Linked DNA regions of Homo sapiens: region 2 is linked to region 1. The links come from fine-mapping of genetic effects on gene expression. A gene starts in region 1. The other region holds a variant in brackets. All regions are shown on one strand. Distances are between the middles of the regions.

Region 1 (8,346 bases):
ATCACATAAAATGCAAATGCATGTGACCCTCCCATCCCCTAGAAGTCTTTCAAATTACAATTGCGTTGCAACTCTGAGGACTATCTTCATATGTAATCTTTATTATACAGTAAGAATACATTGAAATCCGACTGAGGATCAGGGAAAGAGTATATAAATTGTGAGGGAAACATTCACCAGGTAGTGTTCTAGTGTTACTGGAGTAGAGGTGTACTAGAATTGGATGATGAGGTTAGGAGCGGGTGTCCACAGGTGGAAGTATGAGGTTTGAGATGGACAGGTATAGAAGTCATAACACTTTTAATTCTCAGAGTGAATCTCATGTTGAGGGAGCTATAAACAGCTAGGTTTACACCAGCAGTAATTTGCTGCCCTCAAATTCTAACAGCACAGGCAAGTGCTTGATCACTTAGTGTACTCACTTGTCTTTTACAGTTTATCTTTACCATTTCATGTGCTTTTTTTTTTTTTGAAAAAACATGTAAACTAGAACCTTCATACAACATTGTTGATTATGGAGTAATATTATTTAAAGTAGTTATTCCATTTTAGACTCTAATTGGAGCCTTTTAGCCATTGAATATCACCCTAATACTGATCTCAGAATGTACAGTACCCTTTCCTGTTGTCAGAGATGTTGAGGATGGTGTTATGTTGAGCTTGTAATGAATATGGCATTATTTCACCCAGTCTAAACACTCTATTAACTATCTCTTTTCCCCTCGCAGGCCACCTCCACCACAACCGAAAGTATCATCTCAGGGAAACTTAATTCCTGCCCGTCCTGCTCCTGCACCTCCTTTATATAGTTCCCTCACTTGATTTTTTTAACCTTCTTTTTGCAAATGTCTTCAGGGAACTGAGCTAATACTTTTTTTTTTTCTTGATGTTTTCTTGAAAAGCCTTTCTGTTGCAACTATGAATGAAAACAAAACACCACAAAACAGACTTCACTAACACAGAAAAACAGAAACTGAGTGTGAGAGTTGTGAAATACAAGGAAATGCAGTAAAGCCAGGGAATTTACAATAACATTTCCGTTTCCATCATTGAATAAGTCTTATTCAGTCATCGGTGAGGTTAATGCACTAATCATGGATTTTTTGAACATGTTATTGCAGTGATTCTCAAATTAACTGTATTGGTGTAAGAGTTTTGTCATTAAGTGTTTAAGTGTTATTCTGAATTTTCTACCTTAGTTATCATTAATGTAGTTCCTCATTGAACATGTGATAATCTAATACCTGTGAAAACTGACTAATCAGCTGCCAATAATATCTAATATTTTTCATCATGCACGAATTAATAATCATCATACTCTAGAATCTTGTCTGTCACTCACTACATGAATAAGCAAATATTGTCTTCAAAAGAATGCACAAGAACCACAATTAAGATGTCATATTATTTTGAAAGTACAAAATATACTAAAAGAGTGTGTGTGTATTCACGCAGTTACTCGCTTCCATTTTTATGACCTTTCAACTATAGGTAATAACTCTTAGAGAAATTAATTTAATATTAGAATTTCTATTATGAATCATGTGAAAGCATGACATTCGTTCACAATAGCACTATTTTAAATAAATTATAAGCTTTAAGGTACGAAGTATTTAATAGATCTAATCAAATATGTTGATTCATGGCTATAATAAAGCAGGAGCAATTATAAAATCTTCAATCAATTGAACTTTTACAAAACCACTTGAGAATTTCATGAGCACTTTAAAATCTGAACTTTCAAAGCTTGCTATTAAATCATTTAGAATGTTTACATTTACTAAGGTGTGCTGGGTCATGTAAAATATTAGACACTAATATTTTCATAGAAATTAGGCTGGAGAAAGAAGGAAGAAATGGTTTTCTTAAATACCTACAAAAAAGTTACTGTGGTATCTATGAGTTATCATCTTAGCTGTGTTAAAAATGAATTTTTACTATGGCAGATATGGTATGGATCGTAAAATTTTAAGCACTAAAAATTTTTTCATAACCTTTCATAATAAAGTTTAATAATAGGTTTATTAACTGAATTTCATTAGTTTTTTAAAAGTGTTTTTGGTTTGTGTATATATACATATACAAATACAACATTTACAATAAATAAAATACTTGAAATTCTCTTTTGTGTCTCCTAGTAGCTTCCTACTCAACTATTTATAATCTCATTAATTAAAAAGTTATAATTTTAGATAAAAATTCTAGTCAAATTTTTACAGATATTATCTCACTAATTTTCAGACTTTTGCCAAAGTGTGCACAATGGCTTTTTGTTAATAAAGAACAGATTAGTTTTGAAGAAGGCAAAAATTTCAGTTTTCTGAAGACAGCATGTTATTTTAACAATCAAGTATACATATTAAAAATTGTGAGCAATCTCAAATGAAGGTCCATCGTTTCATTTTAAATCTCTAAATGAATTCATATAAGACTCAAACGTTTGTGCTGTTCACTCATGTAGCCTCAGTTTTTGCAATTGTGATGCATATCACTGAAATTTTACAGTTGGTAATGTATTAACTATGTAACTTAACACTTGGAATTAAATAGTTCTTTGGATATTTGACTAGTTAAGTTTTTAAAAAGACTATTGGATCTGAACTTCTTTTATATATTTTTTAATATGCTTTATGTTTTTTACTTACTTGGTCATGGATGCCACTTCAAAATTTGAAAATATTAAAGGACATCCTTTCTTTCTTCAAAAAGAATAAATAAGGGTAAATTATATGCAAGTTTGACATCTCTGTTTGACTCTGTATGTCAAACTGACCTTGTTCAGAGTATTGCATTCTCGCTTTCTCCTGTGTCTGTAACCATAGAGTTAAGCACAATTTGGGTTTTCTAAACTCAAATCAGATTTTATTAAATTTCATAAATGTTTACTAAAACCTACCATTTTTCAGGCACTGTATTAGGTACTGTGATATCTAAGTTCTGGATAGGATATGTTTCCCGACTTTTAGAAGTGCATCCTCTGTTATGAAGAGAGGCATACACACAAGAATAATACAAAATCAACCCTATTAAAGATACAAACCAGAAAGGTTGAGGAGTAAGAAAGAACAAAATAATACAAGAGCCAGAAATTCATTCAGAATACTTACCACTAATTGATGAGTTGAAGCATTTACTGTAATTGCTCTTCTGTTTGTTACAAAGCAAGGTGAAACTAGCTGTGGCTCAGCAGCTGCCTAAAAGCAGTGTTAGCTTAGCATTGGCTGTTCCTATTGAGATACAAGCTCAGTGTATTTTTTTGTTGCCTTGTTCCCCACCCCACCCCTCCACCTGCCCCAGATGGAGTTTTGCTCGTCACCCAGGCTGGAGGGCAATGGCACAATCTCGGCTCACTGCAACCTCCACTTCCTGGGCTCAAGCGATTCTCCTTCCTCAGCCTCCCCAAGTGCTGGGATTACAGGCGCCCACAACCATGCCCGGCTAATTTTTGTATTTTTTAGTAGAAACGGGGTTTCACCATGTTGACCAGGCTGGTTTCAAACTCCTGACCTCTGGTGATCCAACCACCTCGGCCTCCCTAAGTGCTGGGATTACAGGCGTGAGCCACCTCACCTGGCCTGTTGCCTTGTTTTTGTTCATGCTATTAATTTCAGGTGTAGATTGCCCTGTTGAAATTGCGTGCATCCATAAAAATCACATCTTCACTTTAAATGTCTTAGTTCCCCAAGTGAGATTTTTCTCTGTTCCCATGAGGCCTTTTAGTTTATGTGTTGGCCTATTATGTAGTATGAGAAATTAATCCATTCTTTGGGATTTGAAAAGAATGAAAAGCTAATGCATACAGATGGAGACCAGGTGTGAGGCTGGGAAGGAGGAGGCATTGCAGTTCCAGGGAGTAAAGCAGTGTTTAGGAAAAACCCAAAGTCAGAGCTGCTAAAACACGGGATAGGAGAAATTAAGTGGCAGGTTCCGGTCTGAGTTCAGAAAAATTACTATGCTGAGGCTAGAATTTTCTACTGGAATGTAATTACTGTAATTGTGGGCAAGAATCTCTAAATCTTTCACTACATGAAATAAGTATTTATTGCACTGAGAAGTTTCTGAACAATAGAATGACATCACATGAGTTTTAGCCAATGGCCTGCGGAGAACCAGATTGGAGGAAAAAGCCTGGTTGTGAAGTCCATTTGGGCAGCGTCAGTGGGGAAAAAAATGCAGCTGGCGCTCTTCAAAAATATGAAGAGCTGGCATTTCATATTGAAAAGCGGCTCACTTTTCCCTTCTTTGGAATGTTCACACATCTGGCTAAATAGTTTTGAAAAAATATTAGAAACAGGTTTGGCAAATATGAATATATATTTAGGTGTGTATATAGATTTTAATTCAGAAAGTATTACACATTCGCTTTTGAAAGGACCTAGGAAGCCCCGAACGGTGGCAGATGCCTGTAATCCCAGCTACTCAGGAAGTTGAGGAGGGAGGATCACTTGAACCCAGGAGTTCGAGACCAGCCTGGGCAGAATAGTGAGCACCCCCGTCCCAAAAAGAAAAAAAAGCAACTGGGAAGTGTCTGGTGCAGGAGAGCACACGCTGACTGTGAATAAGTGTGTCAGTTCTTAAGGTCCAGCAACACAAAGCGAAAAGTTAGTGGAGGACTACGAGCGCGATCTCGACAGAGGGCGCTGGGTGGTCAGTGGCTCCAGCAACCACGCGGCTGGGGTGCGCCGGGAAGGGAGCTGGATGTTTTAGCCTCGGGGCGCACGCTGCGGGCCCTTCGTGTTCCGGACGCTAAACACCGAGAGCACCCCGTCTCCGGGGCCTCCGGAGAACGCTGTCCCATGAACGTGCGGGGAGCGGCCCCCGGCGTCCGCGCGTCCCCGCGTCCCTGGCAATTCCCGACTTCCCAACGGCTTCCCGCTGGCAGCCCCGAAGCCGCACCATGTTCCGCCTCTGGTTGCTGCTGGCCGGGCTCTGCGGCCTCCTGGCGTCAAGACCCGGTGAGCCAGCCCAGACCCTGACACTAGTCCGGGCGCTCGTCACACTGCGGCCCGACTCCCTGCAAAGCCCGGGGCCCTCCCTGTCTGGGTCCCTTTGGTCCTGTCACCCTGGCAACGGGGCCTTTTCCAGGGGATTAGGCGCCCCGTCCGGATGGAGAAGCGACTCAGGGCCCAGCACCAGGGCTCACGCCTGTAATCCCAGGGCTTTGAGAGACTGAGGCGAGCTGATTGTTTGACCTCGGAGTTGGAGACCAGCTTGGGCAACACAGCAAGACCCCATCTCTACAAAAAAATTTAAAAAAATGTTCCGAGGTGGTGGTGCGCACCTGTGATCCCAGCTACCCGGGAGGCTGAGGGAGGAGGACCACGTGAGTCCAGGAGGTGGAGGCTGCAGTGAGCCAAGATCGCCCCCACTGGACTCCAGCCTGGGCGACAGAGATCCTGTCTTTTTTATAAATTAAAAAAATTATTTTTGTGTGTGACCGAGTCCCTTCTGTCGCCCAGGCTGGAGTGCAGTGGGCAACAGTAGGCAACAGAGGGAGACTCCAGATCGTAGTTCTCCAGAACTATGAGGAAAATAAATTTCTGTTGTTTAAGCCATGCAGTCTACACTATTTTGTTATGGCAGTGGGAGCTGACTAATATAGTACTTAACAGCAAAATGATTGAAAAACTGTAAAAGTTCATTAGTAAGAGAACTGCTAAATAAACTGTGGTTATCTCCAAACAATGCAAATGGACCACTGTGGAGAGGGAGGAAGTAAGACATGCCATGTACTGACTCTGGCTGACAAGATTCAGAATAGTATGTAATAAGAGAAGGAAAAAAATACGGGCATATCCAAACATTTTACTTGCATGTAAGCCTCCCTGGTGATACTGTAAATTTTTGAGAACTCTTCCTACTCTTCTTCCTATCCTGCCATAATTACCTCTGCAGCATAGCAGAGGTGTGGTCAAGGCCAGGGTGTCAGCCTGGTTAGATTAGGGTGAGTGTTCTCTTCCTGGCTTGTAAACAGCTACCTTCTCCCTGCGTACTCACAGGACCTTTTCTTTGTGTACAGGGAAAGACAGGAGGAGGAAATTCTCTGATGTCTCATCTTATAAGGGCATGAATCTCATCATGAGGGTCCCACTCTATGCCTAAAACCCTGATTACCTCCCAAAGGCCATAACCAAATACTGTCACATTGGGGGTTAGGGATTCAACATAGAATTTTGTGGGATACATTCAGTTCATAACACATACAAAATTTTAATGCAGTGGTTGTCAAAGTTTTTGGGTTCAGAACTGCCTTATACATGAACAATTTTTGAGATTCTCAAAGAGCTTTTGTTTATGTGGATTTATATCGATGTTTAACATATTAGAAATTAAAATAGAAATGTAAGAATGTGTATTTCATTCATTAAAAATAAAAGTAACGGCCAGGCGTGGTGGCTCACGCCTGTAATCCCAGCACTTTGGGAGGCTGAGGCAGGTGGATCACCTGAGTGAGGTCAGGAGTTTGAAATCAGCCTGGCCAACATGGTGAAACCCCATTGCTACTAAAATACAAAAAAATTAGCTGGGCGTGGTGGTGCGTGCCTGTAATCCCAGCTACTCGGGAAGCTGAGGCAGGAGAATCGGTTGAACCCAGGAGGCAGGAGTTGCAGTGAGCTGAGATGGCACCATCGCACTCCAGCCTGGGTGACAAGAGCAAAACTCCATCTCAAAAAATAAAATAAAAAAAAAATATTAATGAACATTATTTTTTAGAGTACGTTTAGGTTCATAGCAAAATTGAGCTGAAAGAGTTCCCATATAGCCCCTGATCCCAAATATGAACAGCTTCTCCCACTATCAACATCTGGCACCATGGGATCCATTTGTTACAATTGAGCCTACACTGACACATTGTTATCATCCAAAGTCCACAGTTTGTTTGCATTAGGGTTCATTCTCCACATTGCCCATTCTATGGTTTTGACAAATGTACAATGACATGCATCCACCATTGTAGTATTATACAGAATAGTTTCACTGCCCTACAAATCCCATGTGTTCTGCTTATTTATCCCTCCCTCCCCACTGCCCCTGGCAACAACTCATCTCCTTAGTCTTCTTAGTTTTGCCTTTTCCAGAGTGTCATGTATTTGAAATCATATGTAGCCATTTTGGATGGACTTTTTTTTTACTTAATAATATGCATTTAAGGTTCTCCCATGCCTTTTCATGGCTTGATAGCTTATTTACTTACTTAATTGTTTTTTTGAGATGGTGTCTTACTCTGTCGCCCAGGCTGGAGTGCAGTGGCAGGATCTTGGCTCACTGCAAACTCCGCCTCCCGGTTCAAGCAATTTTCCTGCCTCAGCCTCCCAAATAGCTGGGATTACAGGTGCCTGCTACCATGCCCAGCTAATTTTTTTGTATTTTTAGTAGAGATGGGGTTTCACTGTGTTGACCAGGCTGGTTTCGAACTCCTGACTTCAAGTGATCCACCCACCTTGGCCTCCCAAAGTGCTAGGATTACAGGCATGAGCCGCTGCACCCGGCCGCTTTTTTATTTTTAGTGCTGAATAATATTCAATTGTCTGGATCTACCACAGTTTATTTATCCATTTACCTACCAAATGACATCTTGGTTGCTTCTAAGCTTTGGCAGTTATGAATAAAGCTGCTATAAACATCTATGTGCAGGTTTTTGTGTGGACATAAGTTTTCAACTCATTTGGGTAAATACCAAGAAATGCTATTGCTGAATCATATGATAAGAGTATATTTAGTTTTTAAAGAAACTGCCAAGCTGTCTTCCAAAGTGGCTGTACCATTTGCATTCACCCCAGCAATGAATGAGAACTTCTTTTATTAATGCTGTCATATTATAAATTATATGCATAACTACAAGTGCAAGAAATCCTGGCTGTCTTTTTTATTATAACTCAGAAGAGAGAATTTAAACTTTCAAATGAAAATGCCAGCTCCAAACTGCTGATGGTCCCATCAGCTGAGGGATCTTGCTCAGCAATTTGGGGATGGCATTTTCACATTAAGCAGTCACTCCTCATGTCCTCCTGCTTCCAGCCCCTGGCAGCCACTGATCTGCTTTGGATTTATCTGGCAGCCACTGTCCCTTTGGATTTATCTATTCTGGGTATTTCGTATAAATGGAATCATACAAAATATGACCTTTTTTGTCTGGCTTAATTCACTTGCATAATGTTTTCAAGGTTCGTCTCTGTTGTAGAATGCATTAGAACTTCATTCCTTTTTGTGACTGAATAATATTTCATTGTATATATTCACCCGTTTGTTTACTGATTCATCAGTTGATGGACATTTGATTGTTTCCAACTTTTGGCTGTTAGGAGTAATGCTGCTAGGAACCTTCATGTACCAGTTTTTGTGTGG
Region 2 (8,346 bases), 170 kb after region 1:
TCTAAATATTTTTGAACAATGTCAATTGGTAAAGCAATGCACTAAAATCCAGACTGCTAATATACAGTTGAATTTAGTTTCTAATAAATTAGTCATTTCTTTATTTAATAAATGTTTACTGGAGGTCTCTTTTGAGGAAACAAGGAATAAAATAGCTGATTCTAAAATGAGATAGGACATGTATAATTAGTAAAGAAAAAGAATGTATAGGGCCTAGAAGTTACCCAGCTGGTGTTACAGAGAGAGCCATGTGCTTCATAACAATGTTTTGGTAAATGAGAAACCACATGTATGATGGTGGTTCCATAAGATTATAATGAAGGTGAAAATTCCTACAGCCTAGTGATGTTGTAGCCATCACAACATCAGAGAGCAATGCATTACTCACTTGTTTGTGGTGATGCTGGTGTAAACAAACCTACTGTGCTTTGCAGAAGACTCCTTGTGGAGGTCATGTTTTACCCTCCTGTGTGATAAATTTTTACATTAACTGTTACACTGGAGTTCATGGGAAGCATGGAGTGGTGTCCTTATCCTATACGTGTAAAGAATTAAGGCTCCTGTTTCTCTGTGTGATGATTTTTCCATCCAAATTCCTAAGCCAATTTAAGTGCTCCGGGTTCCCGTGCCTCCTGGTGTTCATTTTTCATCTCTACTTCTGAAGCAATTTCCCTGATGCATCTCTGTGTCTAGTGGCCACAGCTTTTACTATCCCCATTTCATGGGTGGTACAGCCTTTCAGGGCTTCCAGGTTTAGAGAAGGAGGTCAGCTTCATCTTTCTAGGAAGTCTCAACTCTTGATAAGCTGATGTGGCTTATGAAACTGACTTGTGTACCCCCAAAGTCATTCAGATTTAGTTTGTATTTACCTTTCGCATTTTCAATTCTCTCTCTCTCTGTTACTATCACTAGAAATGGCCTTTTCTTTCATAAAGTTTTAGTAAATAGTATGTGTTGTTTTGCACTATTTCTCTGTGTGTGGTATAGGAGGGGAAATTACCACACCTCCCCATCAGTTCAGTCTTCTTGACATTAGTGTGGATTTTGAATCACAACCTACAGCAATGTATTTATCAACGGATAGACTCTGAAGGCCAGAATCAGGCATTTAAAATAAAGCATGTATTCTGTGCTAGAAAGTGAAAGGAGAAAAACAAATCAGTTTTCTTGTTCCTCTGCTTAGTTGAATATTTGAAATTTAAACTTTTTATGGACATTGTATATGAATAAATAAAAACTTGTTTGCATATGCTAATTTAGTAGTCTTTTGAAATTATTCTTCAGTGGTGATTCTTGGTAGAGAAGAATTAACACAGGTTGTAAAATGATCCGACATTCATTCATTATGGAGGCACATTTGTGTTAAGTATTAACGTGGAAGCATTACTTTTTCGCTTTCTTTTAGAACCAGATCAGAAAGCAGCAGTCAAGCTGATACTAGCAAGTAAGTGAATTAGGGGGCATTTTTTTTATATAATAAGTATATGTTAAAAATTGAGATGAACAAATTGATAATTAACAATTACTTGCTAACTATTAACTGAGTAGCCACAATTAGTAAAGTACTGTACCTTAAAACAACCTATTTGCTGATCTAGTAACTTGCGAGTATTTGTCTAAATAAGACAATATCTTCTTTCCTGCAGTTTAGTTAATATGTGTTGGGAGTTTATTTTTGGGAAACAAAGGAAAACATTTTTGGTGAAATGTTTAAGGAGCTAATTCATAAAAAGGATCTTTTTGTATTCTTTTTCTTGGAGTACACCAAGGGGAAGTTTACTTTTTTATTTGGAGATGGCACAACTAGAAACTAATATGTATGCTGATGAATAACTGAGTGAATGCTCGCATAGATCACCTGGGAAGAATTTGTTGAAAAAAAAAAAAGCATCACAAAGGAACAAAAATTCCACATCTTTCATTGTTCTCAGTATTACTAGGTCCCTGTCCATTTCCTGAAAGGTGGATGTCTTTTTATAATAACTCAGTAAGTATCTAGTTCCTCACACTCAGCAATTGTGGGTTTTAGGTCCTTCTGCAGATATAAAATGCTTTGAAGTTTTTACTGCTCCCTCTCTGAGTTACAGTTTTTATATACATTTATAGGGGGCTAGTGTTATTCTTTCTAGGTTGCTCCAAGCCCACTGCTGTTCCCAAACACATCCAAATCCACAGGACAAACTCTCTAAGCTGCACAACAAGGTTGTATGATTTCTTTTGTTCCAGAAGAAATTTACCTCTTCAATAAGAATGCCTGCGTTGCTCATTTTTAATCTGCCTCATTATTTTTTTCCTTACAGTGGCACGTTGGAGTCATGAGTTTATCTTTAAAATTTTGATTTTTATTATCATGTCTGTTCTTATTATTGTGAGCAAGGGAGTTACCATATAGGGATCAGGCCCAGCGAGCCTCAGTGACCTTTTTCTCTTATTATATTCTGTCATCTCAGATAATAAAGGCTATGTCTATCTTGCTCAGCATTGTATAGCTAGCATGTAGCAGAGTGCTCGGCTCATATTATAAGTGATCAATAAATATTTGTTGAAGGAATGAATGAATGACTACCTTTGATCTTCACACAGAGGCAACCAAACCAACAAAAACAGAAACACAAAGGTACATAGACAAATCTATATATATATGTGTTCACATGCATGCATGCACACACATTCATATATCCATGATGATGTTGTCGCTTCCTCCATTTCTTCTTCGCTCAATATATCATCTCTCACCCTGAAACCCTGTTAACATAATTCATCTCTCCCAGGGTTATTTACCTCCATTCAGTGAGGGGTGATAGCATCACCCATAGGAAAATGTACATTTCAATAGACATCGTTTAATTTGCAATGTTAAACCACTGGTCTAGCCTTCTGGCTTACCGTGCACCAGGGAATCATTTTAGAATAACTATTCATTTGAATTTTAGTAACATCATTTGACATGGTGGCTGTGCTTTAGTGATATAACATCCACCATAGTTTTCATGTCATTTATCTTTGGAGTAACCTTTAACTGGTGGGAAGTTGAAGCCAAAGAAAGCAGAGAGATGGAATGAATTCCAGTGAAGCAGGATATTTCCCTGACCCCTTCAGGGGACTCATGACAGGGGTGCCTCGTTTACTCAGCCTCCTGACTCCTCATCGGAGGGAACGCGTGGGTGAACGAGGTGGGAGCTGCTAGAGTGCAGGAGCGCTGGAACCAGCCGGCCATTTCAGCCCTGGCTGGGCGGGATCAAACTCCACTCACTGGGACCCACTGCGCTCCACCACTCGGGAGGGAGCATGCAGGTGAGCAGGTGCAGGAGCCACAGCCAGCACTTTTGGGCGCCGGCAGGGGCGAACTCTGTGCAGGCCCTGCAGCGGTATCCAGGCAGGGTGCCTGTGACTCCGAAAACCCCAGAGGGCGTGTTACAGTGCTCTTTTAGCTTGGACAGCTTAAGTATTAACAGCTCAGTAGGCCCTCTGCCTTTTCAAGTGAGGCGGCTGATCTCCACCAGTGAGGGCGAAGGGACAGTGTGACAGCCTTTTGAATCCACACTTGTGGCTCCCAAACTCTTGTCTGGCATCCAGGAAAAATGAGGTTGCATGAATGAATTGAAAGATGATAAATGTGAGGAATTTTATTGAATAATGAAAGTGGCTTTCAGCGGGAAGGGGAGCTGAAAAGGGGATGGGCAGGAAATCTTCCCCTCAAGTCCAGCCACCTCGGGCTGGACTCTTCTCTGAAGTTATGCCATCAAGCTGTCCCTCTGAAGTCTAGCCCCTTCTCTCCGACATCCAGCCATAGTCCCTGACGTCCAGCTGCCTCTCGTCTCTGCCAACTGAGTCTGGGGTCTTTATAGGCACAGAATGGGGAGGGGCAGGGCCATGGGTGGTTTAGGTTGAGCAGGAAAACAGTGATAGAAATTCTCTCTTTGGATGGTGGTTTCCGGCTTTTCGGCTTGAGGGTGGCGCTTTTGCCAGAGACCCACCCTTTTCTGCCTAGAATTTCTCTGCCACCTGTTCCCATCACCAGTATGGGTCACATTAGTACTACTTTAGTGTAATTATTTTAAATGTCTAAATTCTTTCAGTATTTCCAGTCTTTTCCTAAGCAACAGAAGAATCTTTGACAATTTATCAGCAAACTCTTAACATTACTCTCCCATATTATTGTCATTTGGCTTTTAGCTTCTTCCAGGTTTTTACCTACAGAACCCTACCCTCCATTATTATTATTATTATTACTATTATTATAATCATTTTTATATTAAATTAATACCTGCTAAGAGCTTAAAACGTATTTATCAGTTGCTTTGCTCTCACTATTTATTGTTGAATCCATTGATTTTTCATTATGGGTTTAGTTTCCTTTTTACAACCCTTTTAGTTTCAGTTTAGTGATTCTGTATTATCAACATTTGTGTTAAATGCCTGAACATGCTTTTTTTATCCACACTGAATTTTGAATGATAGCTTAAATGGTTACTCCTAGCTGAGAAGGACTTTTCTGAAAGCGTTTTGTAATATTCTGTTGTTGTAATGTGCCATGTACTGTCATTGATGAGACCTTAGTTGTCAGTATCATTATTTATTCCCCCCTCAATTAATGTGCTTTTTCTAG[G/A]TGGCTTCTAAGTTTTCCTTTTTGTCTCAAATGTTTTGTTATTTTATGATTATATGTTCTGATAGAATTTGTTTTTATTTATCCAGCTCTAGATTCAATATAGTCTTTAGATATCAGGACTCAGGTCATTAAATCTAAAAAATTAATTCAGTCATTATGTCTTCAATTATTGACTCTTTCTCATTCTTTCTCTTTTTTCCACTGGAAATGATTATATTTAGGAGGGTCTTCTCATTTTAGCCTTCATGTTTCTTTCGTCTTTTATTTATTTTTTTTAAGCGGAGTCTCTGTTGCCCAGGCTGGAATGCAGTGGCGCGAGCTCAGCTCACTGCAACTTCCATCTCCTGGGTTCAGGCAATTCTCTGCCTCAGCCTACCAAGTAGCTGGGCTTACAGGCACCTGCCACCACGCCTGGCTAATTTTTGTAGTTTTAGTAGAGACGGGGTTTCACCATCTTGGCCAGGCTCTTCTTGAACTCCTGACCTTGTGATCCACTCGCCTCGGCCTCCCAAAGTACTGTGATTGCAGGCGTGAGCCACCATGCCCGGACTAGCATCCATGTTTCTTAACTGGGTTCTTCATGTATTACATCTTTCTACCTCTCTATCTGACATTGTTTCACTTCCTTATATCAGTTTCCAAATCCTCCGTTTTCTTAATAGCTATTTTTTTTTGCCTCAGTCCTGCCTTGATTTGTGTGGAGATCCTAAATATTTCAATTTTGAAGATTTTTATATTATCTGTTGATCTTGATGTGTGAATTTTTGTTTTGCAATTTAGGTTGATAAGCCCACCCTCAAGGGCAGTGATTGTTCTCATGGGACTTCTGCATGCCCTGAGTTGTAGAGGCATGCATTGGGAGGATGAGAGTATTTCAGGTTTGCCTCTCCTGGGGCATGAATGTTGTAATGTTTTCCATGCTTGCTCTTTCAGATTTGCGAGTAGTGGAACTGAGCAGCTGAGGTCTGCACTGCGTGGTGCAGGCCTGTGATTTCTGCATCTCTAGATGATCCTTTTCTTTTCACTTGCCTGAGAAAATTTGCTAGTTGTGTTCTGAAGTGCAGTGGTCATAGCTTTTAATATTTCCATTAAAGACTACCAGGCTTGGGAAACTGCTCCATTGCAGCTTTCTAACACGTAAAGATCCATGCCCTCAACTCCTTCCAAGCTAGGGTTATGAAAACCACATCTTTTAGGGTATAAGTAATTCAGCTTTAGCTCTTGTTTTCCCTCTGAGCTTCTAATTTATTTTTTTTTAAATGGTAGAAGGAAAACCCTTTGTGACTGTCAATCTTAGTTATGCATACGTTTTTTGTTTTCTTCAGCTTTTCTCTATGTATCTAATAGAAAGGATAAGTTTTACTATTTGTCCAGTCTGCCAAACTGGTCAGAAGTAAATGTAAGTTTTAATTTACAAACTGCTGCAATTTATATATTAACAAATACAAAACTAACTTGGAGGCTGAAGAACAGGTTTAGACATTTACAGTTAAATTTACATTAACTTCGAAGTAATTTGAAAAACCTCTGCTATCTTGATACTCTTGATTCTCTACTAGAGAATTTACATTTTGTACTATATGTTGCATTTGGTGTTTGAGTAAAAAAGAATGCTATTTATTTGCATGCCCCACATATTTAAATAATTAGTTTTGGTGCTATAAAATGGCCTGTTTTTCATTCTCAAAGTAGGCAAGCTCTTAGTGTTAACTTTCAGATATTGTTTTTAATTTATTTTTATTTTTATTTATGTTTATTTTTATTTTTTTGAGATGGAGTCTTGCTCTGTCTCCCAGGCTGGAGTGCAGTGGCGTGATCTTGGCTCACTGCAAGCTCTGCCTCCTGGGTTCACTCCATTCTCCTGCCTCAGTCTCCCGAGTAGCTGGGACTACAGGCGCCCGCCACCACACCTGGCTAATTTTTTGTATTTTTAGTAGAGACGGGGTTTCATCGTATTAGCCAGGATGGTCTCGATCTCCTGACCTTGTGATCCACTCGCCTCAGCCTCCCAAAGTGCTGGGATTACAGGCATGAGCCACCGCGCCTGGCCAATTTATTTTTAATAATAGATATTTAATATATATTGTTTTTAATTTATTTTTAGATCCAAATCAGAAGATAGTGCTGAAGCATATACTAGCAGGTAAGCAGGATAGAAAGTGTTACTTATAAATAAGTATGTTGAAAATTCAGAATGAAAAAGTTGATAATTCACAAATAATTGCTCAACATTTTTTGAGCAGCCACAATCGATAAAGTCTACACCAAACCCAACTTATTAATATTTCCCATTCTACAAGCATTAATTAATTCCATTAATCTTTTTTCTTCAGTTGACTAAATTTTTGTTGATTGCCTACTCTTGTGGTACATAAGAAATAAGCTAGTGAAATTTAATAAGAGACAAATATTTATGATTACTTTGTGAAACTAAATCATAAGCTGAACATTTTGCATCCTTTATTCTGGGATACACAAAGGGGAAATAGTACTTTTTCAGGTTGCATTTACACCCCCAAAAACTCAATGTGAACAACTGAGCGAATGATTATTTCCACTTAGGAAGAGTTTAGGAGACAGTATTATAAACACACTAAAATTCTACATTTCCCACAGATCCTCAATGTCCCACACCTATGTTAACAAGGGTTCTCTGAACTCGTTTAGAGAAGCTTTTGGTTTCCTACACCCCACAGTTGTGGCTTTGTGATCCTTCTGAAGTTATCAAATATTTACTGCTATGTTCGTCATGGTTTCTCCATTGTAGAGTTTTCATTTTCTTATATTGCCTAGTATTTTTCCTTAAAGTGACCTCTTTGAGTTACATTCAACCCACTGCTATTCCAAAATATCCTTTATACACACAGATTAAATTTTCTAGGCTACACCAAAACATTATATGGTTTGTATTTTCCCCAATGAAGGCACCCCATCCATTAGGAAAGCTACAGTATTTCTGTCTCCTTTATCCTTTCTGTTGTTCTTGGATGTCTCCTAACATAAGCACCCTTTTACAGTCATCAGTTACTTTCTCTAAGCTATGTTTGAGAAAAAAGCTGATTTTCTTTGTTGTCTCCACTCTCCGTCACTGTCACCAAGGGAGTTGTGATAGAGTGCTCAAACACTGCAATTCTCCCAATCTTCTGCTCACCTAGAAGCATTACTCTCCTTTTAGGCTCTGAAATCACTTGAGGGTCAAGTCCATGTTTATTTTCCCTACCTATTTATAGGTAGCATCTTGCAGGGTTAATGCTCAATAAATACTTGCTTAACGAATGAGTGGTTTCTCTTGAAGTTCACATATGCACATATAATTCTTAGTGGTGTAACTACTCTAATTGTCCCCTTACATTATCTCTCCTCATAAAATATGCCATAATCATATCATAATCATCCTTTTTAAAAGTAATAAATTCAACTAGATTGAGGGATAGACAAGGGCATCATCTATAGGGTAATATACACTGGATTTGGGGAGTATAATTTGGAATGTTAACCCATTATTCTAACTTTGTGTTTAGCATACCCAGAAAGGTATTTGGTGATTATTCTTTCACTTAAACTTAGTAAGCTAAGCAGACATAGTTGCTGTCCTTTACTGTTAGAGCATTTACTGTATTTTCTTGTATTTCTGTTCCTTTTACATTTATATTTTTAGTATTTTTGTTGCCGTTGGGAAGCCAGTGGGAGATGTTGGTAGAGCCAATTCCTTGGGTAAACATAATGAAACAATATAT

Evidence for each region.
Region 2: its variant is fine-mapped to the expression of ADAM32 in hypothalamus (GTEx, PIP 0.96).

What each region holds. Positions count from the first base shown.
Region 1 is chr8:39,102,879-39,111,224 of GRCh38, forward strand. It overlaps ADAM32 (ADAM metallopeptidase domain 32), which reads left to right and starts at 4,856. Exons shown (of 25, transcript NM_145004.7): 1 at 4,856-4,955. The coding sequence starts at 4,898. It overlaps ADAM9 (ADAM metallopeptidase domain 9), which reads left to right. Exons shown (of 22, transcript NM_003816.3): 22 at 729-2,383. The coding sequence ends at 822.
Region 2 is chr8:39,274,423-39,282,768 of GRCh38, forward strand. It overlaps ADAM32 (ADAM metallopeptidase domain 32), which reads left to right. Exons shown (of 25, transcript NM_145004.7): 22 at 1,406-1,444; 23 at 6,714-6,752. Among named protein-coding and RNA genes, the nearest start is that of ADAM32, 170 kb to the left of the region's middle. The variant G/A (reference allele first, on the strand shown) is at 4,610.